3 linked regions of the Homo sapiens genome follow. The protein of the gene in region 1 purifies or fractionates together with the protein of each later gene. This does not show direct contact. Each region holds a gene or a part of one and is shown in the gene's direction. Other genes may lie near its edges.

The links.
Region 2: the proteins of PTPN5 (region 1) and SLC27A4 purify together in Homo sapiens (affinity purification with mass spectrometry, with the first as the bait; 2 studies listed by BioGRID). This does not show direct contact.
Region 3: the proteins of PTPN5 (region 1) and FAF2 purify together in Homo sapiens (affinity purification with mass spectrometry, with the first as the bait; 2 studies listed by BioGRID). This does not show direct contact.

Annotation. Positions count from the first base shown.
Region 1 is NC_000011.10:18,779,911-18,790,589, reverse strand, and holds part of PTPN5 (tyrosine-protein phosphatase non-receptor type 5), read left to right. Parts: intron 1-10,679. UniProt on the Homo sapiens protein: May regulate the activity of several effector molecules involved in synaptic plasticity and neuronal cell survival, including MAPKs, Src family kinases and NMDA receptors.
Region 2 is NC_000009.12:128,342,201-128,351,784, forward strand, and holds part of SLC27A4 (long-chain fatty acid transport protein 4), read left to right. Parts: exon of another isoform or gene 1-165; coding exon of another isoform or gene 166-192; exon of another isoform or gene 193-560; intron 561-926; coding exon of another isoform or gene 927-932; coding exon 933-1,093; intron 1,094-2,954; coding exon 2,955-3,349; intron 3,350-6,344; coding exon 6,345-6,503; intron 6,504-8,111; coding exon 8,112-8,181; intron 8,182-8,283; coding exon 8,284-8,375; intron 8,376-9,584. UniProt on the Homo sapiens protein: Mediates the levels of long-chain fatty acids (LCFA) in the cell by facilitating their transport across cell membranes. Appears to be the principal fatty acid transporter in small intestinal enterocytes.
Region 3 is NC_000005.10:176,489,706-176,500,384, forward strand, and holds part of FAF2 (FAS-associated factor 2), read left to right. Parts: intron 1-2,488; coding exon 2,489-2,627; intron 2,628-4,293; coding exon 4,294-4,379; intron 4,380-4,478; coding exon 4,479-4,570; intron 4,571-6,780; coding exon 6,781-6,958; intron 6,959-9,208; coding exon 9,209-9,380; intron 9,381-10,297; coding exon 10,298-10,441; intron 10,442-10,679. UniProt on the Homo sapiens protein: Plays an important role in endoplasmic reticulum-associated degradation (ERAD) that mediates ubiquitin-dependent degradation of misfolded endoplasmic reticulum proteins.

The DNA of each region.
Region 1 (10,679 bases):
GGGCTTTAATTTGCTTCCTTCAACCTCAAAGGAGAGCTCTCATAACACTCAAACACTCCGGGTTTGGGATTCGTTTGGGAGAATGAAGAAGCCCAGGACCTGAGATCAGATTCCCAGGCGTTAGTCCTGATCCACCCAGGACACACTGAGCCTGAGTGTCCTCAGTTGGACCAGGTGATGTGGCATCCCAGGATTCGTCCTCTTCTCCACTGTGTCCTGACTGCATGCCCTCCCAGTCACCCTTCCCTCCCGCTTGAGGGCCAGATCTTCTACTCCAACCAGGCCCCTGTAGTCATCCCTTTGCGGAGGTCCCCACCTCTTTCTCCTTGGGGCTCGTTAAGGGCAGCCTCTTGGTGCTGCTGACAAAGCTGCTGGGGAAGCTTGAGTTACAATCACACCAGGTTCGGGTGGTTTCTCAGCACGCGGCTCCCTCAAGGGCAGCCAGGTGTCCCCAGAGCTGAGCCTGATGCCTGGTGCAGAGAGGGTGCCCCGAGAGATGTGTTGAAGGAGTACAAGCATAGACGGATGGTGAAGGGATGGAGTCAGTCACCTTGGAGGAGACTGGATGGAATAGTTGGCAAGGAGGGCAGTGTTCAGTCTCCAGGGACCTGAGGTTCTGGTCTCAAGAACTTCCTTTTTTTATTTTATTTCCATAGATTTTTGGGGAACAGGTGGTATTTGGTTTCGTGAGTAAGTTCTTTAACGGTGATTTGTGAGAATTTGGTGCACCCATCACCCAGAGTATACACTGAACCCAATGTGTAGTCTTTCATCCCTCATCCACCTCCCACCTTTCCCCCAAGTCCCCAAAGTCCATTGTGTCATTCTTATGCCTTTGCATCCTCATAGCTTAGCTCTCACTTATGAGTGAGAACATACAATGTTTGGTTTTCCATTCCTGAGTTACTTCACTTAGAATCATAGTCTCCAGTTCCATCGAGAACTTCCTTTTTGAGGGGGGTGAGCAGCTCATCATGGAGCTGAGCCAGGGTGGCCAAGTGGCAGAACTTCAGGGGCTGCCACTGACAGTGTAGTCCATGTAGATGGCATTGGCTATGAAGTTTACACAGACTTCATAATGAATGGTGGCCCCTGGGTTTTTGCCATGTAGGGATTTCTGCCTTGAGAGTGAAGGGATCTGGATTCCAGTCCCAGTCTCTTCCTCACTGGCTGTACGGTGTCAGTATATAACCCTTTTGGGTCTCAATTTCTCCATCCAAAAAAATAACATCATTGGATTGATGATGTTATGAACTATTTGGCGGTGGGGTGGGAGCACGTATTTATGTAACTGCTATGGGCTTCTTTTGCTTTATGAAGGAATAATTTCTGACTCAAGAATGATGTATGTAGAGTACTTAGTACAGTCCCTAACACATAGAAAATGCTCAGGAATTGGTAGCTAGTAATTCCACTAGGACTCCAGCTTTGTGGATATACCCTATACTTCTTCCTTTCTTCAGATCATCCAAGGACATGGGATTCTTAAGGCCTCAAAGTCCTCCTCCCTCAAAAAATTCCTTTCCCCCTGACCTATTCCTGGACTTCAGGCTCAGCCAGCATAAAACATCTGTGAAAACTCCCTGGGAGGATCAACACTTTTGTTTATTCAACCTTTTGTACGTTAGCGTAATAGAATTTCATAATTAATTTGTATGTAGTGTCAAAAGCTCTTCCTATACTCTGTCACTTACTCCTCATAAGACATCCGTGACAATAGTGTTATCATCCTCATTTTGCAGATAGGGAAATTAAGGCTTGGATTTTCACTTATCTAAGGGTGCATACCTCAAAAGTCTCAGATCCAGAGAGCTAGGCCTCCAGCTCAGATGATCTGACTCCAGATTCTGAACTCTTTGTTCTGTGTCGTATTGCCTGTCCTTTCCCTAGACTTGCCCTAAAAGAGAGGCGGATAACCCCTTAAAAACAGTTGAAAGAGGACTTTTATTCTCCTCACAGGTCAGTAACGGCTTCTTGGAGAAGCCAAGTAGCATTTAAACTGGGTGAATGATTTGTACGTTAGAAGAAAGGAAGAAAACTATTTCGAGGAGTGGAAATAGCATGAGCAGAGGATGGACAGGCATGGGGACTTCTAGGATATATACAGAAACTGGAAAGCAGTTCATTCCAACTGGAGCAAAAAGAATAAAAGAAGGGACTTGAGAAGGAAGGTTGGGTAAGGGGATGGAGGTTATTGGGGGGACATTGACTGCCAAGCTAAGGAGTTGGGAGTCTTTAGTTTTTGAGTGGGGGAGAAACATAATCAAACCGTAACATGATGAAACTCACTCTGGCTACCCCTTGGAGAACAGATTGGATGTGGAGAGCCTGCTGGCCAGAAGCCCAGGTAGGAAATGATGACAATGGTTTAGGTGAGAGATAAAGAGAGTATGGACTGGGGGTGGTTGTAAGAATGGTTAGAAAAAGGAGTTGATGCAAGAGGCCACAGTGTCACTAAAATTGGTAACTGATTGGATGTAGGCACTAACAGGAGGGAAGAATAAGTGATGGCAAGGCTTTGAGGCTGAATGGCCAAGGATGTCATTCACAGACACAGCCCAATAGGAGGAGGAGTGGGAGGCTTAGGAGTAGGGACTATGAATCTACCAGGGACCATAATGAGCCCTCCTGAAAAGCTGGTTCATCAAGCACCCTAAACTATCAAGAACCAGTTCATTCATTCATTTATTCTCTGAATACATATAAACATCTGTTACATGCCAGGTTGTTCTAGCCCCTAGGGATACGTTGCTAAAAAGACGAACTTCCTGCCCAAGCTCTACCAGGGGAGACAGAAGATAAAATTGTTCAGGTGGTGAGCAGTGCTTTGGAGAAAAATTAAGTAGGAAGAGGGATGACTGGGAGGAAGAATGGAGAAAGAGATCTGCCTTTAAATAGAATTGTCTTTGAGGAGGTGATATTTGAACAAAGACCTGAGTGAAGAGGAGACCTGGGGAACAGCATTCTAAAAAGAGGAGACCACAGGTGCAGAGGCCCTGGGGTAACAATAGCTTGGTGTCTTCAAGGAACCTGAAGTGTACCTGTAAGAGACAGACAAAGGGGGAAAGTGATAAGGAAAAAGGTGAGAGAGTGGGCAGAGCCAATCATGTAAGGGCCTATAGACCTGAAGAATGAGAAGCTGCATGATGTTAATGAATCTAAGAGAACACATATCCTATTCACCTTATATTCTTTGTGCCTAGCAAACCAAGCCTGGCCCTTCACAGTAAATCATTGTTGAATGAGTGAATGAATGAATGAATGAATGAATGTTGGAAATGACCATTTATGTGTGAGACTGCATATCTTAGACTTATATGAACCAATAAATAAAGATATTATACCATAGTAAGGGTATAGTAATCTGTACTATGATCAAAATAATAAAGCTCAGATAACTTGAATGCTGTGTTGTCACTCAAGTATGAAAATTTAAGTGAAGTCTGCATATTTTATTCAGTATGGCTTTATATTATAAACACTGCTGTTGACTAAGACGAAATAGTAAAACGTACCTGAAATGACTGTAAAACAATGAAAATAACATTTTTGGTCTTTCTTCATCCTCCTCCCCGCACAAATATACATCCTTCTGGCTTCATTTCAAATTTTCTCTTGCACTCTCAACCATTTCCTTCATAGAGGTTTTAAGGAAACTCATCTCTAACACAAAGACCCATATTTGCAGGACAAGATGCTATCATCTCCAGTAAACTGACAGATTCCCAAAAAGAGAAGGCAGTGGGGAGGGAGAAATTATTTATAGACATATAAATGCTTCGGGCACCTAATCAGTTGTTGAAATGGATCTACAGGTGGAGATGGGAAAACTGGCTGGACCATGTGAGGGGCTAGGTGACATGCAGGCTCAGTCTTAGAATCACAGGATCTCTGGACCCCCAGTCCAGATTCCATCTGCAGCCACAGGTCTGTCACCTGTCATATGTAGAAGGTAGAAACTCAGGTCATCTCAAGGGGAAAAAAGAAAAACAAAAACTAGAAACTCTTTTCTCTTTTAAGCAGTGTTATCACCAAAAGGCTCTTCCTTATCTTAGGGGATTGTGGAAAATAAGATTCCCCCTATTCTAGGCCGGGTGCGGTGGCTCACGCCTGTAATCCCAGCACTTTGAGAGGCCGAGGTGGGCGGATCATGAGGTCAGGAGATCGAGACTATCCTGGCTAACATGGTGAAATCCCGTGTCTACTAAAAATACAAAAAATTAGCCAGGCGCCGTGGCAGGCGCCTGTAGTCCCAGCTACTCAGGAGGCTGAGGCAGGAGAATGGCATGAACCCAGGAGGCGGAGCTTGCAGTGAGCCGAGATAGAGCCACTGCAGTACAGCCTGGGCGAAAGAGCGAGACTCCGTCTCAAAGAAAAAAAAAAAAAAATAGATTCCCCCCATTCTTTAACATCATCTCCATCTTTTCTGCATCTGGTGAGATGTGGAACGAGCATCATGGCCACCGGTGTCTGGCAAAACTCAGTAATTTCCAAACTCTTAGACTGAGAAAAGCTTTTCCCACTGTGCTGCAGCACATGGAACAGAAGCCACCCTCCTTCCTTTGTCCCCATTGAAGCAAGCGTGACTCAAGTTTCTATACCTGGGGTGTAGCATGTTGGATGGGGAGGGGATCCCCTCACACCAGATGCGGGAGATCCACTGTTTGCAGATTTGTAAGGGAACAAGCATCATGGGAATTCCTAACTTTGGGCTAATGTAAGGGATAAACTGTTCACAGCCAAATTTCCTGGTTAGTCCAGTAGCAAAATAAAGACCCTAAATTGCCCTCCTTTTTTGTGGTGAGGTAGTTGGTTGGAGTCATTAGAGAGACACACCAAGTCCTGAAGTGTCTTTCTGAAGAGTCGACATGAAACAGCCCCTCGCCTCCCATTCCTCTGCAAGCCTTTCGGGAGGGATTTGTGGGCCTCAATGGTGGCAGCATATGGGCATCTGGAATCAATTCTGAAGATTCTTGCAAAACTAACAATGTGTGTATTTCATCATCTGCCTAAAGATGTTGTCTGGTATAAATTATAAATTACAGTTGTGAAAATAACCATACTCCATGCTAGAGAACAAACGTAAGATGAACCATCATTTTATATGCCCTATTCTATGTTTTCTGTAAATCTGTATTTTGTAATAGTTGAAATTAGTCCACATATAGGTTTATAGCCTGCATTTTTCACTTAACATTTTGTCATGACTTCTCTGTTTATACTTGGTTGGCTGACCCCTGCTTTATTTAACTATGTCTTTATTGTTGCACATAGTCAATAATGAGCATCTCCAGGCACATAGCTTTTCCATCTCAGAGTCTCAAAGCATCCATCTGAAGCACCCTCAAGAGATATGATGGGATCAAGGTGGTTAAAGAGGGGTGCAAGGAAAAGAACATGTCGTGGCCCTGGCGTCTGGAGTAGAAAAAGAACAGGGAGCTTGGTGCAGTGGCTCATGCCTGTAATCCCAGCACTTTGGGAGGCTGAGGCAGGGGATCATTTGGGGTCAGGAGTTTGAGACCAGCCTGGCCAACACGGTGAAACTCTGTCCCTAGTAAAAATATAAAAATTAGCCAGGCATGGTGGCGCACACCTGCAGCCCCTCCTACTCAGGAGGCTGAGGCATGAGAATTGCTTGAACCCAGGAGGCAGAGGTTGCAGTGAGCCAAGATAGCGCCGCTGCACTCCAGCCTGGGTGACAGAGTGAGACCCTGTCTCAAAAAGAAAAAAAGAAAAAGAACAGGGAACCCAAGAGTTGGAACCAAGGAGAGGATGGAGAGGAAGATAGATCATGGGCCAGGGGGTCAAGGTCACAGAGCCCTAGGGGTGGCAGAGGGACATGCAGCTCTGTCAGATTTCAGAGGGAAGTCTGTCCTTCCAGTGTTTTGTTTGTTTGGTGTGGGAGGCTTTTATTAAATTGTGGTAAAATACACATAACACGAAATTTACCATTTTAACCAATGTTAACTGTATAATTTTGTGGCGTTAAGTATATTTACAGTGTTATACAACCATCACCACTGTCCATCTCCAGAATCTTTTTATCTTCCCAGACTGAATCGCTGTACTCATTAAATACTAATTCCTCATTCCCATCTCCCCCAGCCTCTGGTGACCTCCGTTCTACTTTCTGTCTCCATAAATTCACCTATTCTAGGTGCCTCGTGTAAGTGGCATCATGTTTGTCTTTTTTTGTCTGGCTTCTTTCACTTAGCCTAATGTTTTCAAGGGTCGTCTCTGTGGTATCATATATCAGAATCTCATTTATTTTCAAAGCTGAATATATTCCATTGTATGGATATACCACATTGTTTGGCCATTCATCTGTTTCCACCTTTTGGCTATTGTGAATAATACGGCTATGAACATTGGTGTGCCAGGATCTGTTTGAGCCCCCGCTTTCAATTCTTTGGGGTATATACCTCGCAGTGGAATTGCTGGATCGTATGATCATTCTGTGTTTCACTTTTTGAGAGGTGCAGGGTGCATTTTTTAAAAAGGATTTTTGTGTGCCCAGTATGAAGACCACTGAGTGAAGTCTTAGGAATAGAGAGTCCAGGAAGAAGCTGTTAATTTAAAAACTAAATGTTGTTTGGGTTCTGCATGGCCATGGAGGTAACAGAGAAGAGAGAAGAGGGAACAGAATACAAATGAGTCTGACTCCGTTTCTGAAGAATTGTTGTGATTTAGAGGCATTGTGGGTGGAAAAAGAAAGCTCTCAGGAGAGATCTTAGTGGGTGGAATTGATTCAAGCATGCAAGTATTTACTGTACCAGGCACTGTGGTGGACACAAGGCCCTCAGCAATCAACACGACCACAAGGACCCTGCCCGCAAGGAGCTTAATGTCTAGTGGAGGTGCCAGAGGAGTCACCTGGCAACAGTGGTCTGTACTGATGCATTCTAGGCTCATCATAAGCACTCACTCTTACTGAGTGCTTACTACATTATCTCAATCTTGGTGACAGTTCAGTGAAGACGGTTTCTGTTATCCTCAATTTGCAGGTGAGGAAACAGAGAGCTTGAGTAACTCTATTTCAGGTACGCACAGCAAGAGTCAGAGCCAGAATTTAAACCTAGGCAGTAACTGTGCTCTGTAGGGCTGTGGGAACACAGGAGAGACACCTGCCCAGGACGGAGGTCAGAGAAGGCTTTCCGAAGGCAGGGGTCAGGTGAGTATTTTCACGCAAGTCAGCTGTGTTCTTCTTTAGCCCATGATGTAAAACAGTGCTTTCCTATAGTAGCAGCAGTAGCGTTCAGCCCTGCTTCCAGGGACTCTAGACACTCAGGGAGACCCCTTCACTGAGACTCCACTTCAGAGGAAGATGATCACTTCTATCATCCTTGCTGCTTATCATGAGGCAGGGAGGCTGGGGGTGAGGCATTGCCATTTCCCACTGCCATCTGCTGCCTCTGCTACTTCCCTAGCTGGTCAGCATCTGAGGTACCTCAGAGGGACCTCCTGGGGCCCCTTCGGGGCAGCATCAGGCCAGTGGGCTAAGAGTTAGGCAAATACGAGGCCTAGGAGTGGCAGTGAAAATCATATATCCACCTTCTGTGCCACATCACTGTCCCAAGATACTCCCACCACCACAGAGCCCTGTCTTACCAAAGTACAGATGTGGCCAAGTCTCTGGTGTTTCCATCCTTCTGTGGCTCCCCATAGCTTGCAGCCGTATTTCTCAACAGGGACCTACTGGCCTTTGGGTGGGAGAGTTCTTTGATGTAAAAGCATCCCTGGCCCCATCTCCTATATATTTGCCTGGAGCACCCTTCAGTCATTATAACAACCAAAAATGCTCACACATGTTCTTCAGGTTTACTTTACAAGCAGTCCAATGTATAGATCTTAAGTGTTCTGTTCAGTGCATTTTGACAACTGCATGAGCTCATATAACCATCACCAAGAGCAAGACTCAGAAGATTTCCATCACCCGCAAAAGTTCAGAGATAACGATTATTCCAATTTCTATCATTGTAGATGGATTTTGTCTGTTCCTAATCGTCATATAAGTGGAATCATATAGTACATGCTCTTTTGTGTCATGAAATAGTTTTTAAGAAGCCAGACGCAGTGGCTCATACCTGTAACCCCAGCACTTTGGAAGGCCAAGACGGGTGGATCATCTGAGGTCAGGAGTTCGAGACCAGCCTAGCCAACATGGTGAAATCCCATCTCTACTAAAAATACAAAAATTAGCTGGGCATGGTGGTACACACCTGTAGTCCCAGCTACTCGGGAGGCTGAGGCAGGAGAATCCCTGGAACCTGGGAGGTGGAGGTTGCAGTGAGCCAAGATCATGCCACTGCACTCAAGCCTGGGTGACAGAACGAGACTCCATCTCCAAAAAAAAAAAAAGACATAGTTTTTGAGATCCATCCACGTTGTCACGTTTTCCCCACTAACCCCCAATACACACACAGATTTCTAAATGCCAACTAGCATGGCAATACCTGCCTCTGTCCCCCTGAGAAAAAATGGCCTGTGAGTCAAAGTTAGTGTGTCTTAGGCTGATTCATGAAGCCGTCTGCTGTGTGACAAGAGTCCCTCTTACGTCTACTCTGTGGCTACACTGAGCTGCCTCGTCTGCCTGGCATACCTTGTGCTTTCACCTCTCCGGGCCTTTGCCCTGCAGTGTTCCCTGCCTGGAATGTCCTCCCTGTATCTGGTGAACTCCTGCTTGTCCTTCGGGTCTCTTCTGTGCAGCTTCCCAGACTCTGTTTTTGTGCCCTCCTGAGTGCTCCCATAAGACAGCCTCAGTGGGCCTTTAATGCATTTCTCACTCAACTCACTAGGCCGAATGCTGGGTGGAGGGCAGGGACTGGCTCTTAGTTATCTGTGTGTCCCCCAAGGCTCAGTACAGAGCCTGATATTAAAGAAATTGATATAAGATTATAGTAAGATTATCTTAGAGACAAACTGGGTTTAAAATACAAAATATATTCTGAACCACCCCCTGGAGCTAATAAAGTTGGAGCTGGGCATGGTGGCTCATGGCTGTAATCCCAGCACCAGGCCGAGGCGGGTGGATCACTTGAGGTCAGGAGTTTGACACCACCCTAGCCAATATGGTGAAACCCCATCTCTACTAAAAATACAGAAACTAGCCAGGTGTGGTGGCAGGCTCCTGTAGTCCCAGCTACTTGGGAGGCTGAGGCAGGAGAATTGATTAAACCCGGGAGGCGGAGGCTGCAGTGAGCCTAGATCGCGCCGCTGCGCTCCAGCCTGGGTGACAGAGGAAGACTCCATCTCAAAAAAAAAAAAAAGTGGTCAAAAAAAGACAGTCTGATCTCTGGCTACAGATGATAAATGTAAACTGACTTCCTGCCAGTGAGGCAGAGACCTCCATCCCTTCCCCAGAGGACCTAGCATCATGGGAAGTGGCATGGATGAGTGCAAAGTAGCGCAGCTCAGGGAGTCAAGGGGGCCGGGGCGGGGCCGGGGGGGTGCGGCAAAGATCAGAGTCAATCTCAGAAGGCTGCCTGGAGGAGGTGAGTTCCAAAGGTTTTCAAAGAGGTCTCTGTGTCAAGCCTAGGAGTTGCATAATCAGAGTGTGAGAGCCCTAAAGCATGATTCAAGGCCACCTGGATCGTGGGCCTGATCTGTCCTCTCATGACCCTGGTACTGAGTGTCATGCAGCAGCCCTTCCCTCTTCCTTCACTCCTTTCCACTCATGTCTTTCTTCTTTTTCTCCCACTTGGTCTTTCCTTCCCATCTTCCTTCCAAATCTGAGTGTAAAGGAAAGAGCTGGACCTGCCTTCCATGTTTTTTTCTCCTCTGCACTGGGCTTTCTGTCGTGGGGGATAAAGAGGGGGTTTTATCCCTTGCCCCTTGTCAGCCTGGGAAGTTTACAGAAGCCAAAGTTATGGACAAGAGAGCCAGGGAGCAGCCCGGGACAGGGTGTGGCTCATTACCAGTTTCCAAGTCACAAAAAGTGCTGGGGGAAGGATTGAGCCAGAGGAGAGGTCAACACACCCTAGACTCACTAGGGAGGTTTCCTGGAGGAGACCTGGGCTGAGGTGGGCCTTGGAAGGGCTGGAAACCACAGCACAAAGAGGAGGAGCAGGAAGGCCTTTCCTGGCCAGGCCTGAGTGCAGAAGGGTTAAATTAGGCGGGGGGCAGGGGCCCTGATGAGAAGCTGGAGCCCACAGCAGGGTGTGGCAGGAGCTAGGGGCCGCTCTAGGAGCTGAGAGACTAAGGCAGAAAAGCAGGAGGGAGCATGGCTGGGGCAGGCGGATGTCATGGCAGAGGAGGATTTGGGAAATCCTGTGAAGTGGAGTTTCCAGTTCTTTTACCCGCCCTTTCCTAGGGCTCTGGGTCTGACTTGGGGACCTGGAAACAGCCTGGAGCTCTCCAGAGGGCAGAGGAGGTTCTGCTGGGAAGACCCCTCTCATCCTCCAGCTGCTGTCACCTGCATTGTTCTCATTAGCTCCAGGAACACCTGACAGAGCCTGAGGAAATAGGAAGCAGACCTTTGTAGCTGATGGCACTGCCTGGTACAAAGAGCAGGAGTGTCTCCTGTGTGAGGTTGACTTGGAGGGAGACAGGAAGTGAAGCTTCGAGCCAGGTCAGCAGGAATATGGAGAAGGAGGCCTGCCCAGGACTGCCAAGCTCTCCCTATGTACAGCCCTCGCTTCCCAGGCTTCATCACAACCCTGCAGCTCTCATCGGTGCCATGT
Region 2 (9,584 bases), on another chromosome or scaffold:
GCATGCCTCGCTCCGCTTTTCCTCCGCAACCATGTCTGACAAACCCGATATGGCTGAGATTGAGAAATTCGATAAGTCGAAACTGAAGAAGACAGAGATGCAAGAGAAAAATCCACTGCCTTCCAAAGAAACGATTGAACAGGAGAAGCAAGCAAGCGAATCGTAATGAGGCGTGCACCGCCAATATGCATTGTACATTCCACAAGTATTGCCTTCTTATTTTACTTCTTTTAGCTGTTTAACTTTGTAAGATGCAAAGAGGTTGGATCAAGTTTAAATGACTATGCTGCCCCTTTCACATCAAAGAACTACTGACAACGAAGGCTGCGCCTGCCTCTCCCATCTGTCTATCTGGCTGGCAGGGAAGGAAAGAACTTGCTTGTTGGTGAAGGAAGAAGTGGGGTGGGACGACAGTGAAATCTAGAGTAAAACCAGGCTGGCCCAAGGTGTCCTGCAGGCTGTAATGCAGTTTAATCAGAGTGCCATTTTTTTTTTTGTTCAAATGATTTTAATTATTGGAATGCACAGTTTTTTTAATATGCAAATAAAAAGTTTAAAAACTTAAAAAAAAAAAGAACACGTCTCACTACACCCATTGCACAGAGGGCAGATACTAAGGTCTAAAATGTGAAAAGGTCTTGCCCAAGGTCACTTGGAGAATGGTGGGCAGAGATGGGACTATGAGACGAGAACCAGCCTCCTGCTTCTCACTCTTGGAATTCCTCACCTCAAGTGCCAAGCCCCTAGCCTGCCCCTTCCAGGCCAAGCCTGGAAAGGGACCCCTGTGGTCAGTCACCCAACTCAGTATGGCTAAGCCTTACCACAGGCTGTCCCCTTGGGATCACAGTGGCCTGGCTGTCTGGGCTGGGAGGTAGGAGACCTGGAGGGTTGGGTGTTTGGGTCCACTAACTGCCCTGTGTCCGCAGGCCACAATGCTGCTTGGAGCCTCTCTGGTGGGGGTGCTGCTGTTCTCCAAGCTGGTGCTGAAACTGCCCTGGACCCAGGTGGGATTCTCCCTGTTGTTCCTCTACTTGGGATCTGGCGGCTGGCGCTTCATCCGGGTCTTCATCAAGACCATCAGGCGCGATATCTTGTGAGTACCTGGCCCAGCCTTTCCTGGGGTCTGCCACACTACAGTGAGCTTCTGGTCCCCCAAATCTCCCCAGGCCAGACCTCATGTTCTCTACCAGCACAGGGCAGCTGAGCTGAGTTCCAGAACAGCAGCCTCTGCTCCACACCCGTACCCTGGCAATAGTACCTGGTCCCTCCATCTCCAAGGTCAAAGTCTTCTCCCAGGGAATCTCCCTAACTTGAGGCTCCCAGGCCTTGGGCAGGCTTGGCCTAGGACGTACATTGAACACCAAGTGTGTTGAGACATCTGCAAGGGGTCCTGAGGACTCTGTAAGTTTATGAAAGGGTAAAGAGGAATTTTGGGGAAAGGCCCTGCCCTCAGGTTGGCAGGGGTGTGAGATGGCACAGGGGGCACTGAGTTCTAGAGCAGAGCCCCTACTCAGATGTCTGGGATAACCTGCTCCCCAAAGAAAGCCCGGTATGCTCCAAGGGACATCCTGTACCAGAAATATCTATTCCCGCTTGTTCTCTACTAGGTGCCAGGCTAGCTTTGGGGTCCAGAGAGGAATAAGGCAGACCCCATCTGCCAAGCTCAGATTGGTCAGGAGAAAGAAAGGGACACAGCACATCTGTAAATTGGCAGTGCCATGTGGGCAGAGACCCTGGCACAGCCTTGCTCACTACTGTGTCCCAGCACCCAGTTCAGTGACCCACACCCCACACAGGCAGCTCAGCATTTGTCAATCTTGGTTGATTGCAAAAGAAGGCACGGAGTGGCACACCAGGAAGGGTGGTAGCTGTGGGAGCATGGAGCAAGGAGAAACAGCTGCCAGCCAGGACCCTGGGAATCAGAGAAGGCCTCCTGGAGAAAAAGCGGCTGTACTTGAGAGGCGCCTTAGTGGTGGTGGAAGGAGATGAATCCAACCAGAAGGCACAGCATCAGCAACAAAGGCATGGAGTCCAGGGCTGGGCGCAGTGGCTCACACCTGTGATCCTAGCACTTTGGGAGGCCGAAGTGGGTGGATCACTTGACCTCAGGAGTTTGAGACTAACCTGGGCAACATGGCAAAACCCCGTCCCTACCAAAATACAAAAAAGTTAGCCAGGCATGGTGGTGCACACCTGTGGTTCCAGCTACTTGGGAGGCTGAGGTGGGAGCATCATTTGAGCCTGGGAAGTGGAGGTTGCAATGAGCTGACATTGCATCACTGCACTCCAACCTGGGTGACAGAGTGTGACGCCATCTCAAAAAAAAAAACAAAAAAACAAAGGTGGCAGGAATGGGATGTTGCCAAGTGATTCCACAAACTTATTGAACATCTACTCTGCCTGGCACAGGACCCAGGGGATAGAGTGTTGAATAAGACAGAAGCCTATCCCAGCTAGGCTCACAGGGAGGAAGACTGGACAGACCAGCAAACTCATTCATTATTTACTGTGGTCATGGTGGGTCGAGGGAGCAGCTGGACTGTGGGAGGCCCCAAACAAGGAGTTTGGACTTTTACAGGAAGCTCTGGAGACCTAGGAGGTTTCTGCTGGAGCAGCAGGCTGAGAGGGTAGGAGTAGAACTCTGGAGCCAGAGAGGCCTAGAGTTCAAATCTCAGCTCAGCCACCCTCCATCCATGAAGCTTTGAGCAGGCCACGGCACCACGAGAGCCTTGATTTCCTTCTGTGTAAGGGGAGGGGAATCATACGAACTCTCAGTGTTATTGAGAGGCATCAGTAAGGCAGTGCATGTTCCCAGCAGGAGCCAGGAGATAGAAGTGTTGTAGGGGGTCTGGCTCATGAAGCATAGGCTGGCGAGGCAGCAGCCTGGGGTAGGGTGTCAGGACCCCTCCCTCCCAACCATGGCAGACACAGCGCCCTCTCTTGTTCACACACAGTGGCGGCCTGGTCCTCCTGAAGGTGAAGGCAAAGGTGCGACAGTGCCTGCAGGAGCGGCGGACAGTGCCCATTTTGTTTGCCTCTACCGTTCGGCGCCACCCCGACAAGACGGCCCTGATCTTCGAGGGCACAGATACCCACTGGACCTTCCGCCAGCTGGATGAGTACTCAAGCAGTGTAGCCAACTTCCTGCAGGCCCGGGGCCTGGCCTCGGGCGATGTGGCTGCCATCTTCATGGAGAACCGCAATGAGTTCGTGGGCCTATGGCTGGGCATGGCCAAGCTCGGTGTGGAGGCAGCCCTCATCAACACCAACCTGCGGCGGGATGCTCTGCTCCACTGCCTCACCACCTCGCGCGCACGGGCCCTTGTCTTTGGCAGCGAAATGGCCTCAGGTGAGCCCCAAGGGGGCGGGGGACAAGCAGGAACCCCATGGGATCTTACACAGACCACAGCTCCCTTCCAGCCCTGCCAAGGCTGTGTGGGTCAGTGGTTAAGGGCACAGAGTGGAGTCAGACAGCTTAGGCAGTGCCACGAGTAAACGAGATCCTGGGGAAGGGACTGATTTCTCTGAGCCTCAGTTTCCTCATCCGTCGTTCCTACCTCATACTGTTTTCAAAAAGGTACTTCAGACTGGGCATAGTGGCTCACAGCTGTAATCCCAGCATGTTGGGAGGCCAAGGCAGGAGGATCCCTTGAGCCCAGGAGTTTGAGACCAGCCTAGGCAACATAGTAAGACCCTGTCTCTACTAAGAAATTTTTTTGAGACAGGGTCTTGCCCTGTCACCCAGGCTGGAGTGCAGTGGTGCAGTCACAGCTCACTGCAGCCTTGACCTCTCAGGCTCAAGCAGTCCCTCCACCTCAGCCTCCTGAATAGCTGGGACCACAGACATGCACCACCATGCCTGGCTAAATTTCACATTTTTTGTAGATACTCAGTTTTGCCATGTTGCCCAGGCTGGTCTCAGACTCTTGAGTTCAAGCGATCCACCTACCTCTGCCTCTCAAAGTGCTGGGATTATAGGCATGAACCACCACACCTGGCCTACTAAAAAAAGTTTTTTGTTTTTTTTTGTTTTTTTTGTTGTTGTTGTTTTGAGATAGAGTCTTGCTCTGTCGCCCAGGCTGGAGTGCAGTGGCGTGATCTCGGCTCACTGCAACCTCCACCTCCCGGGTTCAAGCAATTCTCCTGCCTCAGCCTCCTGAGTAGCTGAGATTACAGGCACCCGCCACCACGCCCAGCTAATTTTTTTGTATTTTTAGTAGAGACGAGGTTTCACCATGTTGGTCAGGCTGGTCTCCAATCCCTGACCTCGTGATCCACCCGCCTCGGCCTCCCAAAGTGCTGGGATTATAGGCATGAGCCACCACGCCCGGCCTAAAAAAAGTTTTTAAAAAATTAGCTAGGCTTGGTGACATGGACCTGTAGTCCCAGCTACTCAGAGGCTGAGGCAGGAGGATCACTTAAGACTAAGAGGTTGAGGCTGCAGTGAGTGATGATTGTGCCACTTCACTCTAGCCTGGCAGACAGAGTGAGACCCTGTCTCAAAAAAAACAAAATAAAAGGCCGGGTGTGGTGGCTCATGCCTGTAAATCCCAGCACTTTAGGAGGTCGAGGTGGGCAGCTTTGAGATCAGGAGTTTGAGACCAGCCTGGCCAACATGGTGAAACCCCGTCTCTAATAAAAATGCAAAAAAAAACCTAGCCGAGCATGGTGGTGCGCACCTGTAGTCCCAGCTACTCGGGAGACTGAGGTAGGAGAATCGCTTGAACCCAGGAGACAGAGGTTGCAGTGAGCCGAGATCACGTCACTGTGTTCCAGCCTGGATGACAGAGAGAGGTTACGTGTCAAAAAAAAAGATACTTACCTGAAGCACTAGCAACATGGCTGATGCTAGGTGGCCCCTCAGTACAATGGTAATCATCCTTGTGACTAATTAGGCCGTATCTAGCTCATCTGTAAAATGGGAACAAAATTAATTCCCCACTTTCCTCACAGAGCCTGCATTTTATTTGCTGCCACATTGGGCACCTGCAAAGTACTGAGGTTGCTGCTTTCCAAGAGCAGCTCTAATCTCTATAAAGACCGAGTGAGGTAGGGATCTTGGTTTTATGGATGATGAGCCTGGAGTTCAGAGGGGTTTGTGAGGAGCTCACCCAAGATCACACAGTTAGTAAGTGGTAGAACTGGGGTTTGATCTTCAGCTTGATCACAGCACTCTGTTTTTTCTCCCCACACTGTTGTGGTTGTGGGATAATGAATAGGGAAGTCATTAGGATGCTGAAAGGGGGCCTGGCATGGTGGCTCACGCCTGTAATCCCAGCACTTTTGGAGGCCAAGGAGGGCAGGTCACCTGAGCTCGAGAGTTAAAGACTAGACTGGCCAACATGGTGAAACCCTGTTTTTACTAAAAATACAAAAATTAGCCAGGTGTGGTGGCACACGCCTGTAATCTTGGCTACTCAGGAGGCTGAGGCACAAGAATCACTTGAACCAAGTGAGCCGAGATCATGCCACTGCACTCCAGCCTGGGCGACAGAGTGAAACTCTGTCTTAAAAAAAAAAAAAAAAAGATGCTGAAAGGGGGCCAGGCACAGTGGCTCATGCCTGTAATCCCAGCACTTTGGGAGGCCAAGGCAGGAGAATCTCTTGAGCCCAGGAGTTCAAGACCTGCCTGGACAATATAGTGAGACCCTGTCTGTCTCTATTTAAAAAAAGCAAAAGAAAAAAAAAAAAAAAGAAAGGAAAGAAAAAAATGGTGCTGAAAGGGGAGAGGGAAGAAGGCAGCCAGGGAAGAAGAGAGGGTTGGGCAAATCAAGAGGAAGCCAGGAAGGTGGGGCCAAGCCGACCAGCGCTGCTCCATGCCCGGGGGTGGGGGTTATGTGATGTCCGTGCAGTGCGCAGGGGAGCCTGAAAGCAGGTTCCCGCTCTCGGAAGGGGATGGAGGGCCACTGGCCTCTGACCCGCACTCCTCCCTTCTATCTGGTGCACCACAGAGTAAGTAGTGCGGGATAGTGGGGGGGAGCCCAGACCTTGATGTGAGGTAGAGCTGGCATTGCACGCCAGGTCCAGCACATTCTAGCTGTGAGCAGGTCCTCTCATTCTCGGAGCGTCAATCTTCTCATCTGTAAGAGGGGCTGTCAATGGTCCCTCCTTCCCAGGGCTGTGAGACCAGGGAATGCAGGTAAAGCGGACCTACTCTGTGGTTAGCCCATGGCTAATAGAACCATTGCCGGTGCCCCTGTCAACACTGAAGGCCCAGTTGCTTCACTGCCTCTCCTCCTGCCCAGCCAGTATCCTCAGCAACATGGCCAGCCCTGCTGGGAGCAGAGGTCCCTGGGAACATGGGGTTTTCTGGCCTGCCTGCTGACTGCCCTGTCTCCCCACAGCCATCTGTGAGGTCCATGCCAGCCTGGACCCCTCGCTCAGCCTCTTCTGCTCTGGCTCCTGGGAGCCCGGTGCGGTGCCTCCAAGCACAGAACACCTGGACCCTCTGCTGAAAGATGCTCCCAAGCACCTTCCCAGTTGCCCTGACAAGGGCTTCACAGGTGGGCTCCATCCCCTCCCCATAGAGGGGCTCTCACACAGGCCCTGGACAGAGCACTGGCCTCAGTGCCAGAAGGAGGCTTTTCTGGAAACTTGCCATGTGCCTGGAACATGTCACGTCACCTCCCTTTTTCCATCTGGAAAATGGTGACAGTAAACCTGGGCCACTCCAGGGTTACTGTGAAGGTGACATGAGCTGATGTGTATCAGTGCCAGATACAGGGCTGAGAACACAGGAGCTCACAAAGTCCAGTGTGATTTGTTGAACAAGCCTTCATTGATGCCTAATGGGCAGAATCCTGTGGACTCCGGGAACCTGCCTGGTCTGGGCTTTGGTTGGGGTTGGGTGGGAGGGTGGGTGAGGAGCAAGACCCTTTGTATATTCATCAAGTGCCTCTTCAGTGCAGGACACTTCAGGATCTCCAGCTGTGATCCTCTCCCAGCACTGTGCTGCCTCCCTGACCCCACCTCCAGGCAGCCTTCCTGAGCCTCTCACCCCTCTTCTTTTATACTGTAGCCTACCTGGTTCTTCTGCTCTTCTCATTCTCTTTCCTGTGAAGCCACATTGCCTGGTGGCTCAGAGCTTGGGCTGTCGAGTCAGATCCGAGTTTATATCCTGGTTCTACTGCTTCCTTTGTGTGAACCCTGACACCTGCCCTGCCCTTGGAGCCTCAGTTCCCACAGCCATAAAACTGGGGACAGTAGCAGAACCTACTCTATGGGGTATCTTTGAGGGTTGAAAAAAATACAGTGGGGCCAGTCCTGAAGCTAGGGTGTGGCAGGAGGGGCTCAGTAACTGGTCATTGTCATCAGCACTGTTTAACTTCTCTCTTGTATGTGAATCTGGTCTCTTGGGTGCATTTGTCAGCTGCTTGAGGGCAGGGACTCTGGCTGGTTGCTCTGGTGCCCTCATAGTGCCTAGGGCTGGCAAACAGCAGGCAGGCAGAGAGCATGAGGTGTCTCGGCAGGCATTCTAAACACGTGGAGTCTGCCTGTGGAGTTCCTGACCTCCAGGGAACCTCAAGTCTGGTAGGGCCGAGCCTCACATAGAAACTCTAACGTGGCAATCCCTGTCGAGGGCTGCAGAGTGGGACAGATCAATGCTCAGCAGTGCGGAAGCTACCTCAACACCCCACTTCCTGCAGCTAATGCCTCCCTGTGCTCTATGACTTGGGGCAGGTGTCACCTTTATCGTGAAGCCCACCTGGCACCACCTCCCCTCCTGCAAGCTTGGGCCAAATGTGGCTACTGGGTTTCAACAGGTCCTGTGCCCTCCCTCGGCACTTGTTGCTTAGTATTGGAATTGCCTGTGTCCTCATCTGACTGTTCCACTGAGCTGTGACTGCCAAGAGGGCCAGGCCCGTGCCCATCTTACTCACTGATGTCTCTCTCCACCAGGGCCTAGCACAGAGCAAGGGCCCAGGAAATATTTGTTGGAATGGATGCCGGTGTTAGAGCTGAATGGTATCTGAGGTTATCAGAACAGGCTTCCTAGCAAGGGTGTGATGGGAACAGGTGTTGAAGGGTGCACACCTGCAGGTGTCCATTTGTGTGACCCTTTGCCCAGCCCTGAGCTGCCCCCGACAGCCACTCGCGTCTGTTTTCTTTAGATAAACTGTTCTACATCTACACATCCGGCACCACAGGGCTGCCCAAGGCCGCCATCGTGGTGCACAGCAGGTAAGGGGCAGGTGCCCAGGGTGGGGTAGGCACAGGCAGGGCTGGGGAGCCTCCTTCTGCCTTTCTAGGGCCCGCTCAGCCCTTGGCCCTGTGCCTTCCCAGGTATTACCGCATGGCTGCCCTGGTGTACTATGGATTCCGCATGCGGCCCAACGACATCGTCTATGACTGCCTCCCCCTCTACCACTCAGCAGGTAACTCTAGGGCTGTCACACAGCCTCCAGCACCTGCCAGGTCTCTAGGAACCCCACCCCCATCAGGCAGTGTGCTGCAGTAGAAACACACAGCTTTGGGCCAGGCGCAGTGACTCACACCTGTAATCCCAGCACTTTGGGAGGCCAAGGTGGGCGGATCACTTGAGGCCAGGAGTTCGAGACCAGCCTGGCCAACATGGCAAAACCCCATCTCTACTAAAAATACAAAAATTAGGCTGGGTGTGGTGGCTCACACCTGTAATCCCAGCACTTTGAGAGGCCAAGGTGGGCGGATCACTTGAGGCCAGGAGTTCGAGACCATCCTGGCTAACACGGTGAAACCCCGTCTCTACTAAAAGTACAAAAAATTAGCCAGGTGTGGTGGCTCATGCCTGTAGGCCCAGCTACTCGGGAGGGTGAGGCAGGAGAATGGCGTGAACCCGGGAGGTGGAGCTTGCAGTGAGCCAAGATCGTGCCACTGCACTCCAGCCTGGGCAACAGTACAAGACTCTGTCTCGGAAAAAAAAAAAAGAAAGAAATTATCTGGGTGTGGTGGCGTGTGCCTGTAGTCCCAGCTATCTGTGAGGCTGAGGCACGAGAATTGCTTGAACCTGGGAGGCAAAGGTTGCAGTGAGCTGAGATCACGCCACTGCATTCCAGCCTGGGCAACAGAGCGAGACACTGTCTCAAAAAAAAAAAAAATTAGCTGGGTCTGGTGGCGTGTGCCTGTAATCCCAGCTACCTGTGAGGCTGAGGCATGAGAATTGCTTGAACCTGGGAGGCAAAGGTTGCAGTGAGCTGAGATCACGCCACTGCACTCCAGCCTGGGCAACAGAGCGAGACACTGTCTCAAAAAAAATAAAAATAGGCTGGGCGCAGTGGCTCACGCCTGTAATCCCAACACTTTGGGAGGTGAGTGGATCACGAGGTCAGGAGTTCGAGACCAGCCTGGTTAACATGGTGAAACCCTGTCTCTACTAAAAGTACAAAAAGTAGCTGGGCTTGGTGGCGGGTGCCTGTAATCCCAGCTACCCAGGAGGCTGAGGCAGGAGAATGGTTTGAACCCAGGAGGCAAAGGTTGCAGTGAGCCTAGATCGTGCCATTGCACATCAGCCTGGGTGACAGGGCAAGACTCTGTCTCAAAATAAATAAATAAATTAATTTAATTTAATTTAAAAATAAAAATAAACAGGATTAGCCAGGCGTGGT
Region 3 (10,679 bases), on another chromosome or scaffold:
TTTTGTATTTTTAGTAGAGACAGTAGAGATGGAGTCTCATTTTGTTGGCCAGGCTGATCTTGAGCTCCCGGCCTCAAGTGATCCACCTGCCTTGGCCTCCCGAAGTGCTGGGATTGCTGGCATGAGCCACCATGCCTGGCAGCTTCGGTACCTTTTCACTTTGCTCTGGCAGCCCCTAGGTTGCAAACACTGGAACCCTTTTATGTATATACCCACTTGCTTCATACCTTCACCTTTCTTCTAGCTTCCTTCATGTACCATTAAAAGAGCTCATCATTGGAAGCTACAGAGGGTCCAAGGCCAGAAAATGAGTGGGGCTCAACTGGCCGGGCTCTGTGGCTCACGCCTGTAATCCCAGCACTTTGGGAGGCTGAGGTGGGCGGATCACAACGTCAGGAGATCAAGACCATCCTGGCTAATACGGTGAAACCCTGTCTCTACTAAAAATACAAAAAATTAGCCGGGCGCGGTGGCTGGTGCCTGTAGTCCCAACTACTCAGGAGGCTGAGGCAGGAGAATGGCGTGAACCCGGGAGGCGGAGCTTGCAGTGAGCCTAGATCGCACCACTGCACTCCAGCCTGGGTGAGAGAGTGGGACTCCGTCTCAAAAAAAAAAAAAAGAAAAAGAAAAGAAAATGAGTGGGGCACAACTTCTTAGCATGTCAGGCTTGGGTTATCTGGTCCAGAGCCATGTCTAGGCTTTATGGGGAACTTAAATGTTCAAGGGCATCCAGGCCAGCAGATGGAGCTGGGATATGTAGTCTGGGCCTTCCCTGGAAGTACAGGTTCCCTGTACTTCCCTTCAAATATGGGACAGCCTTTACCCTGCCTCTAGGGAGCAGAGGCTGAAGTTGTGGGTCCAGCAGCTGCATAAGTACAAGGGTCAGATAGTACCTTTTATATTGGACCCTTGGTGTTTTATGAGGCTGTCTACTTAATGGCTTTCTTGGTTTAGCAACATTCTTCATGATCACTAATTGCTTAGTACTCTTTCCATCCCCATTTTATTTAAGAATGAACATGTAAAAATCTTTAAAATCATAATGAAAACTAAGTTGACATCTCTGTTTTTTTCTAAAAAATCAAAAAAGCTGATTGTCCTAAATTGTGTAGATCGTGGGAATATTGTGTAATGAGGAAAAAAAAATAAAGGCTTTAAGAGAGAATTCTAAAATGCTTAATTTCAAAGAAAGTAGTTAAAACATCAGTCTTCTGATGAATTTCTAACCATTCCCCCACGTATACAACTTACTACATTTTGTGCTTTTAATTCGCTCTGGAACGTTGTTGTCAATGAATTTGGTTTGATTACTCGGGAGAAATTCCAAGTAGAATTGTATACACAGGGGGAATTTGTTGGGATAATGAATTGACTCACTTTTTGTTAAGGAAAAGTATCACAGTTTAATCACCTTGTCTGTGCTGAAAACGTTTTAAGTAAATGAATATTGTTTGCTTTTCTAGGGAAAATATGCACGGCATGTATTACTAATTTTAATGCAGCTGTATCATCCAACCAGCTTGTTTAATGTTAGGTAACACATTATCCTCTGTCCTGTTGCCTTCTCTGGAAACCCAAAGGATAAATAAATGGTACTATACAAATAGGGTAGGCCCTTTAGAAACAGATGTGTGGTACCATTAGGTATGTATTCTTCACTTTACAAGAGCTGCCAGTACTCCACATCTGCCAGGGTACTGTGGAGCAGTTTTATAACTTCCTCCATGGTTGCCATCAACCATAAATCATCAAGCAAAAGGTACTTGCCCCTTTGAAGAGCAAGTAAGTCATAACCGCAACTTCAGATTTGAAGTTCCTATCCGTAAGTTGAATAGTTTGGGGTTGTGAACTCAATATTTAAAATCCCAGGAAAACAGAAAGGAGAAGGAGGGGCAAGTAGGACAACCAGAAAATGACCTCTGTTCTAGAGCACTGTCCAGTAGAACTCTCTGTGATGATAGAAACGTTCTGTATCTCCGCTGTTCAGTATGAAAGCCATTAAACACGTGGCTGTTGAGCACTTGAAATGTGGCTAGCATTACTAAGGAACTGAATTTTAATTGTATGTAATAGATTTAAATTCAGAATAGCCACATTTGACTAGTGGCTACAGTACTTAGACGGTGCCATTCTAGAGAGTCTGGGTGCATAGCCTGACACATGATCTTTTTGGATACTGTGTCTTCCCTTCCAAACCCTTCTAGCCCTAAATTGTTCTACAAAAAATACTCAGGATTTATGTAGGCCAGTGTTGGAATTTATAATCCCAGTAGTTTGCATTCTTCCTGAACAGGCAATAGAATAACACTTGCTGCTTTATGGCTTTTGAACCAGACTCTACTCTCGGATTTGATGGTCCACTCACAGACTGTTCACCTCCCTTTGTTGCCGTGCCTCTGGCTCTGTTACAGGAATCTGTACAAATTGGCCCACTCGATATGCACTGTAGTAAGCTGGATTCATGTGATATTTATTCCTTCCTCCCCAGGTTTGCTCTTCGTTTTATACGGCCTGACCCTCGCAGCCGGGTCACTGACCCCGTTGGGGACATTGTTTCATTTATGCACTCTTTTGAAGAGAAATATGGGAGGGCACACCCTGTCTTCTACCAGGGAACGTACAGCCAGGTCAGTGCCATAAACCATATAGATGCCAACTTACCGAAATGATTCTATCCTCAAAGGAGAGCACAGCCCAGCACTGATCATGTCCTTCTTGTACTCAAAAACCTTAATTAGCTCTTCACTGCTTATAGGGGTGGGTAATAAAAAAGACCAAACCTTTTAGCTGGCCCCTCTTTGATCTAATGCTGCCCTTCTTTTGAGGTCTTTTCTGCATAACTTATTTTACCATACCCTCAGTTCCAGCTGACTCATTCCCTGAACATAGTCTGTACTTGCCTACCTCTGTGCCTTTGCTTTTGCCGGTCCATCCACGTGGAATGCCTTCCTCACATTTTTGCTAATTGGAATCTTGCCAGTCCTTCAACTAGATTATGTCACGCCCCACTTACAGCTATCCCTGATTGTTGTGCCCTGTCCTGCCCTATCTCATCATCTAGAATACTAATCTTTCCCTTTGTTCTTCCATAGCTTTTAAAAATTGATAGCAATTTTATATTCTTTCCTATATCATTTGTGTTCGTGTCTAATCTCTGCTACCAGACTGAAAGCCCCTTGAAGGCAAAGCCTACATCTTCTTTGATCTCTCACAGAATTGAATAAGGACATAGACCATAGACTCAGGGTAGCACATCTCATTCAACCTCAGCCATGTAGACCTTTGACTCAAGACCTCACCATTCAGGGGAGGAAAAATTAGAGTTCTGTGGGTGTTTGGTATATCTCTAGTTTGCCAGAGAAATACATAGAATTAACACTACAGGAATAGGGAAAACTATGGGAATGCTGTGGCAATAGGCAAAAGGGGGTTCTATTATGCAGCCTCCAGAATTCCTGAATCTATCTGGAGAAAGAAAAATGCTCACCCTTGCTTCCTGCTTTCATTTTCCCACATCTGCTTTTTATCATAGTCAGTCTCCTCGCTGGCTGTTCCCACCACACTCAACAAAAACTGAGCACCTACTGTATGCCAGGCAATGTCCTCAGTGCTAGAGATACAGAGATGAGTGAGATGAGCACCTCCTGTGTACCCTCTCTGCTATGATCCTGAGGGTAGACCACCCTTGACCATGTCAGCAGTCGTACAGTGTAATGTGCTCAGGAGCACGCACATGCAGGAGCACGCACAGGAGTCTTCGGCGCTAGCCTTGTCTTTGAAAGTCTTTTACACCCTATGCTCTTTAGAATGCCTTTGGATCGTACAGTCCATCATTCCTACTCGATATGTGGCCTGGGATCAGGGTTGTCTTCGCAGTTATTTTTTACTTACAAGGATGTTGTAGCTGTGAAGTAGAAAAATTCTCACCTCCCTTTCATATGGTCAGATTCTCCTGTTTTTATCTTCCTTAGACTGTGGGTGCAGCTGACTTTTCTGTGGTTTGTTGGGAACCTGTGTTTGTAAGCCTGTCTACTCTCATGTGTCTGTTAAGTTTGAATCCTAACAACACTAAAACCTTTTCATTAAAGCTTGTTAGCGTGGAGTTTCTATAGGGAGAACAATGCCAGGGGTGTGAAGGTAGGAGCTCAGGAATTTTCTGATTTCTTGCTCACCTTTTTTCCTTATTTTTCCTTTTGTTCCTAAATACATAACTGTATCCATTAGGACCCTTAGCTTAAATATAAGCTCAAGGCACAGTCTTCTTAATAGTGAGTGACCTTCTCTTTCTCACAGGCACTTAACGATGCCAAAAGGGAGCTTCGCTTTCTTTTGGTTTATCTTCATGGAGATGATCACCAGGACTCTGATGAGTTTTGTCGGTAAGTGGATTGATTATTTTCCTTCTCTTTTCTGACTCTTTCTGGTGACAGTTTATAGTCAGCAAGTTGTTCTCATATCCTTTTCATACCTTTCCACAGCAACACACTCTGTGCACCTGAAGTTATTTCACTAATAAACACTAGGATGCTCTTCTGGGCATGCTCTACAAACAAACCTGAGGGATACAGGGGTAAGTTATGTTTCTTCTGCCTCATTGAGATTGTTGGAGTATCTTTGGAATAGTCTGGAAAGACATGCCATGCCATTTATTACAAGTGTGTTTGTTCTGTGGTAGATACGACGCTAGTTGCTATTTTATATTGTCTCATTTAATCCTCTCAGCAGTCCTGAGAGATGGGGGGTCATATTACCTTTGCTTTATGGTTTAGGAAATAGGCTCAGAGAGTTCAAGCCACTGGCTGAAGATCACACAATTAGCAAGTTTTATTTTTTTTGTTTTTATTTAATTAATTAAAAAAATTTTTTTGAGATGGAGTCTTGCTCTGTCGCCCAGGCTGGAGTGCAGTGGTGCGATCTTGGCTCACTGCAACCTCCACCTCCTGGGTTCAAGCGATTGTCCTGCCTCAGCCTCCTGAGTAGCTGGAACTACAGGCATGCACCACCACGCCCAGCTAATTTTTTTGTATTTTTAGTAGAGATGGGGTTTCACCATGTAGCCTCAAACTCCTGGACTCAAGTGAGCAGCCCACCTCAGCCTCCCAAAGTGCTGGGATTACAGGTGTGAGCCACTGTGCCCCGCCATAATTAGCAAGTTGTAGCGTACAGTCGGGTCTGCCAGATTCTAAAGCCCGTTCTTCACATTCAGCATTGCCAAAGCCTGCCACATTCATAGAAATACCCAGTCTTGGCTAGCAGCTTGCTTTTAATCTTAATGGGCTTTTTACTGAAGAGTTTATTCTTTTCATCAACGATTTTAACAGAGCCCTTGCATAGTGAGTCAGTTGTTTGAGTACCTTGAGTGCTGATATGGATTTGGAAAGTTCAGATCTTTGCTGACAATAACTCTTCTTTGGAGATAAGTATTTTTAGACGGTTAGTAAAAGATACGAAGGCATCCAGTGAGGAAAAATGTAGTCATTTTTGTGGCTACTTCTATCCAGCAACTTTTGAGTTTATATTAGCATGCCACATACTGTGCCATGTCTTGAGAACCAAAGATGTGGCAGATGTTGTCCCTGCATCCCAGAGTCTGAATCTTAAGCCTAATTGTTTTTAAACATCCAAATTCCTGCATGCGTTTTGCCATTCTAATATGGCTTTGCAGGGGGCAGAAGGGAGGTTGTGAATAGAAGGAAGGTAAGGATTTTTTTTTAATAGAAGTTTATAAAATCTCTTATTTCACACCATAAGGAAAACATAGGTAAAACTCTGTTATGGTAAAAATCTTGGTCATTTGGACACCAATTTTTTTTTTTTTTTTTTTGAGACCAAGTTTTACTCTGTCACCCAGGTTGGAGTGCAGTGGTGCGATCTCAGTTCACTGCAGCCTCCACCTCCCGGGTTCAAGCGATTCTCCTGCCTCAGCCTCTCGCCTATCTGGAATTACAGGCGCGTACCACCACACCCTGCTAATTTTTGTATTTTTTGTAGAGATGGGGTTTCATTATGTTGGCCAGGCTGGTCTCAAACCCCTGACCTCAAGTGATCCAACCACCTCCGCCTCCCAAAAGTGCTAGGATTAAAGGTGGAGCTACCAGCCCAGCCTCAACTTTCTATTAATAAGCTTCTTTGGAACAGAAAAACTAACCTTTTTAAGGGTGGAGAAAAGTTACGTGGGGAGAAAGGATAAGGAAAGGATTAGGCAAGAGAAAAAAAAATGATGATGGAGATTATTATCAGTATCATCAGGCTGAGACTTGCAGCCTTGTGCCCTTTTAGGTTTGAGCCCTTGTACAGGGAAAAACTGTGCCAGATTCTTTATAGATCCTTTTTGTACCATCAAGTAGACATTATCCTTAAACTCTGCAGCCTTCCCTGGCATCATCACAACAACCACACCGCCACCAGGAAAGCCTGTCCTATTCTAGTCAAGCACCTAGGGATAGGCATGCAAATTGATAACAAAAACAAAAGATTACAAAACTGGGAGGAACTGGGCATGGTGGCACACTCCTGTAATCCCTGCTTCTCAGGAGGCTGAGGTGGGAGGGTCACTTGAGCCCAGGAGCTGGAGACCAGCCTGAGCAACATAGTGAGACCCTGGCTCAAAAAAAGAAAAGAAAGAAACTAGGAGGCGGGGAAAAAGCGGAGACTAAATGATACCTCTCGTCTTCCCCAACCAGGATTAAAACAGTTCTCTCTCACTCATTGTGGAAAGTCTAAGGGTTGATCTTTTTCACCGTCAAGTCCTGCCCTTGATCTGTTGGGTCTTTTTATCAGTCTCACAGGCTTTACGAGAGAACACCTATCCATTCCTGGCCATGATTATGCTGAAGGATCGAAGGATGACTGTGGTGGGACGGCTAGAAGGCCTCATTCAACCTGATGACCTCATTAACCAACTGACATTTATCATGGATGCTAACCAGACTTACCTGGTGTCAGAACGCCTAGAAAGGTACAAGGGAGTTCCCTTCTGGAACAGAGAGAGACCAGTTGTAAATTTGGAGGGCTGACCTCTGGGGCTCTACCAATCCTGACTTCTTCTGTGCATCAGGCCGCTATTAGCTTTTAGCTTTGCCCATTTATTGTCAAAATATTTACATACTTTGACCTAAATTACTCTATATCAGGTAATCTGTTCTTAGAGATGTTCAAAATAAAGACAAGGGCTGGGTGCAGTGGCTAACACCTGAAATCCTAGCACGTTAGGAGGCTGAGGCAGGAGGATTACTTGAATCCAGACTGGGCAGCAAAGCGAGACCCCATCTCTACAAAAAATAAGAAAAAATTAGCTAGGCATGGTGGTACATGCCTGTAGTCCCAGGTCCTTGGGAGCCCGAGGCAGGAGGATTGCTTGAGGCCAGGAGTTCGAGGCAGCAGTGAGCTCTGATTGTGCCTCTGCACTCCAGCCTGGATGACAGAGCAGGACTCTGTCTTTAAAAAATAATAAATGAATGAATAAACAAAGACAGGCCTCTGTGCTCAAGAATGTATATTGTGGCATTTAGAATAGCTGAATATAATATAAAGAACTTCGATGTAAAAAAAAAAGTGGAATGGTTATAATTCCTCTCCATTACATAAGTTATGTACATTAATTATAGGAAATCCTAAAACCACAAAAAAGCACAAGGAAGAAATTTAAGATCACTGATAAACCTACCACCACTTGAACATTGTTATAAATTTTTTTAATTTTATACACAACACACACCCCTATATACGTACACATTTATTTGTAAAATTGGGATAATACTTTTTTACAACCCTTCTTTATGTAAGAATATATCACGGCCTTTTCCCTCATCATTAAATATTCTGCCACATTTTAAAAATTACTGCATAACATTCCATTATCTAAATACATCATAATTTAACCAGGCCACTCTCGTTGGATTTTTAGATTATTTTCGGTTTGTTACTATTATAATTAGCATATAGGGAGATAATTTTTTGCAATTTGTGATGGTTTCCTTAGATTAAAATTTAAATTCCTGGAAGTGCAGTTTCTGGGTGAGACAATCAATATAAGTATATTTTAAGGCTCTTGATTTGTAATGCCAACTTGCCCTCAAGAAAGTTAAACAAACTTAAATTTTATGGAAAGTTTTTAATAACATGGGGACATGCTTGTTACATATTAGAAAAATGCAGAATCAGGCCGAGCATGTTGGCTCATACCTGTAATCCGAGCATTTCGGGAGGCTGAGGTAAGAAGATTGCTTGAACTCAGGAGTTTGAGGTCAGCCCGGGCAACATGGTGAAACCCCATCTCTACAAAAAATACAAAAATTAGCTAGGCGTGGTGGCACACGCCTGTAAGCTGAGGTGGCAGGATTGCTTTAGCCTAGGAGGTTGAGGCTGCAGTGAGTCATGATCGCACCACTGCACTCTAGCCTGGGTGACAGGCTAGCCCTGTCTCCAAAAAAAAAGAAAAATGCAAGATCAAAATCCTGTAAATAATAGCGTTATTTTAACTGTGTAAAAAAATGTATAGAACAGGAAACTTTCCGAGGTAACTGAAATGTTCTGTCTTGATTGGAGTGGTGATTACATGGTTACATTTATCAAAATTCATTGAATTGTACATTTAAGATCTGTGCATTTCACTGCATGTAAATTTTATCTTAATTTTTAAAGATAAAATCTGTTCAACTATTTTGATTGGCTAAATATTTTGGCTAAGAGAAAACAGAAATTTGTTGGAGAGAAAATAGGAGATATGCCAAATGTTATAATGTTTTATCTTTGATTAGTGATTCTCTGAATGACTCTGAAAACTCTACATTTTCAGATCTGCTACAATGTGTGTATGGATATATATGTGTGTGTTTTGGTTTTATGAGATCAGTACAAAAATGCAGTCACCCAAAATGGTATTTACTTGTAAAATATGATATTGATGATCCCTTCATAATAACAGTACTGTGTCACATTTGTTAGAATTAGGGGAAAAGTTTTATTTTAAAAGAGGAGAGGAAAGCTTGCTGTTTCCTTTTCTGCCAAATTAAACTGAGAAAAAAGGTGGCTTATTCAGATTCTGCCACGCTCTGCTTTTGGAATCCCTTATGGCAGTGTGAAATCGTCATCTGCTAAGAATATCAACATTTTTACACACACACACACACAGAAGATTTCAATATAAGAAAACACAGAACTTTGTGAGAGTGCTGTTTTTCTTCTCTTGCTTTTGATCTATTCACAGGGAAGAAAGAAACCAGACCCAAGTGCTGAGACAACAGCAGGATGAGGCCTACCTGGCCTCTCTCAGAGCTGACCAGGAGAAAGAAAGAAAGAAACGGGAGGAGCGGGAGCGTAAGCGGCGGAAGGAGGAGGAGGTGCAACAGCAAAAGTTGGCAGAGGAGAGACGGCGGCAGGTAATGGACGTGTGGCTTTACTCCCTGTGGTTCCCAAACTGCCGAGACTTTGCCATCTTGGTCTTAAGTGTGAAAGGAAAAAATGATAGCCACCTTAAACAGACTAAGAGGGAAAAAAAAAAAGGAAAAAGGAAAGAAAAAATTACAACATGTTGGAATTAGGGGTGATTTAAATTTTTCATACCATTTAAATATTCATTCTTTTTTAAATAAAAATTTAAAAAAAGAGACGGGCTTTGCCATATTGGCCAGGCTGCTCTCGAACTCCTGACCTCACATGATCTGCCTGTCTTGGCCTTCCAAAGTGTTGGGATTACAGGCGTGAGCCACCATGCCTGGCCCTAAATATTCATTCTTAATACCAGTATTAGCTGATTTGGCATTTTACTCATTATCTTTTTGTTTTTGTTTTGTTTTGTTTTGTTGTTGTTTTTGTTCCCTAGCAATCAGACTGAGATATACATTATCTTATTTGATTATGTATTACCGCTTACCTATAACCAGTGTCTTTTAGTCATTTCCTTTTATTTCTTTTTTTTTTTTAAGAGACAGGGTCTCACTGTGTTGCCCAGGCTGGCGTGCAGTGGCTATTCACCAGTGCAATCATGGAGCACTACACCCTGAAACTCTTGGGCTTAAGAAGTCCTGCTGTGGCCTCTGAAGTAGCTGGAACTACAGGCACATACCATGGCACCCTGCTCCCTTTCTCCTTTTTCTCAAATAAATACCTAGACATAATAAAGAATACATGAGATGCAATTGTACTTTAAATTTAGGTTGTTTTTGACTATTCCTGAGAGGTTTTTCTTAGAATACTTAGTCATTAATTTTTCTTCTGACGACTGCGTAATAAAGCTACATGGTCATTGTATTTATTTCTTGAGCTGTAGCCTCACCTTTGCTTTGTGTCTCTGCAGAATTTACAGGAGGAAAAGGAAAGGAAGTTGGAATGCCTGCCCCCTGAACCTTCCCCTGATGACCCTGAAAGTGTCAAGATCATCTTCAAATTACCTAATGATTCTCGAGTAGAGAGACGATTCCACTTTTCACAGTCTCTAACAGTAAGGACCACCTAAGTTCTGTGAAGTGTATGTAGCATCTGGGCTATAGATTTGGAGCTTTTACTGACTCTTGAGAGTGGTGTTGGTGTATCTGCTGCTCTGATGAACAGGGAACAGAGAGAGAGAGAGAGAGATGGGTATGCCATCCGTGGACACCAGGAAGAGTACCGAGGACTGCTGTAGGCTCCTTCAGTTCTAGTTTCCAACTCAAAGCAATTTTTAAGTTTTTGTTTAATTA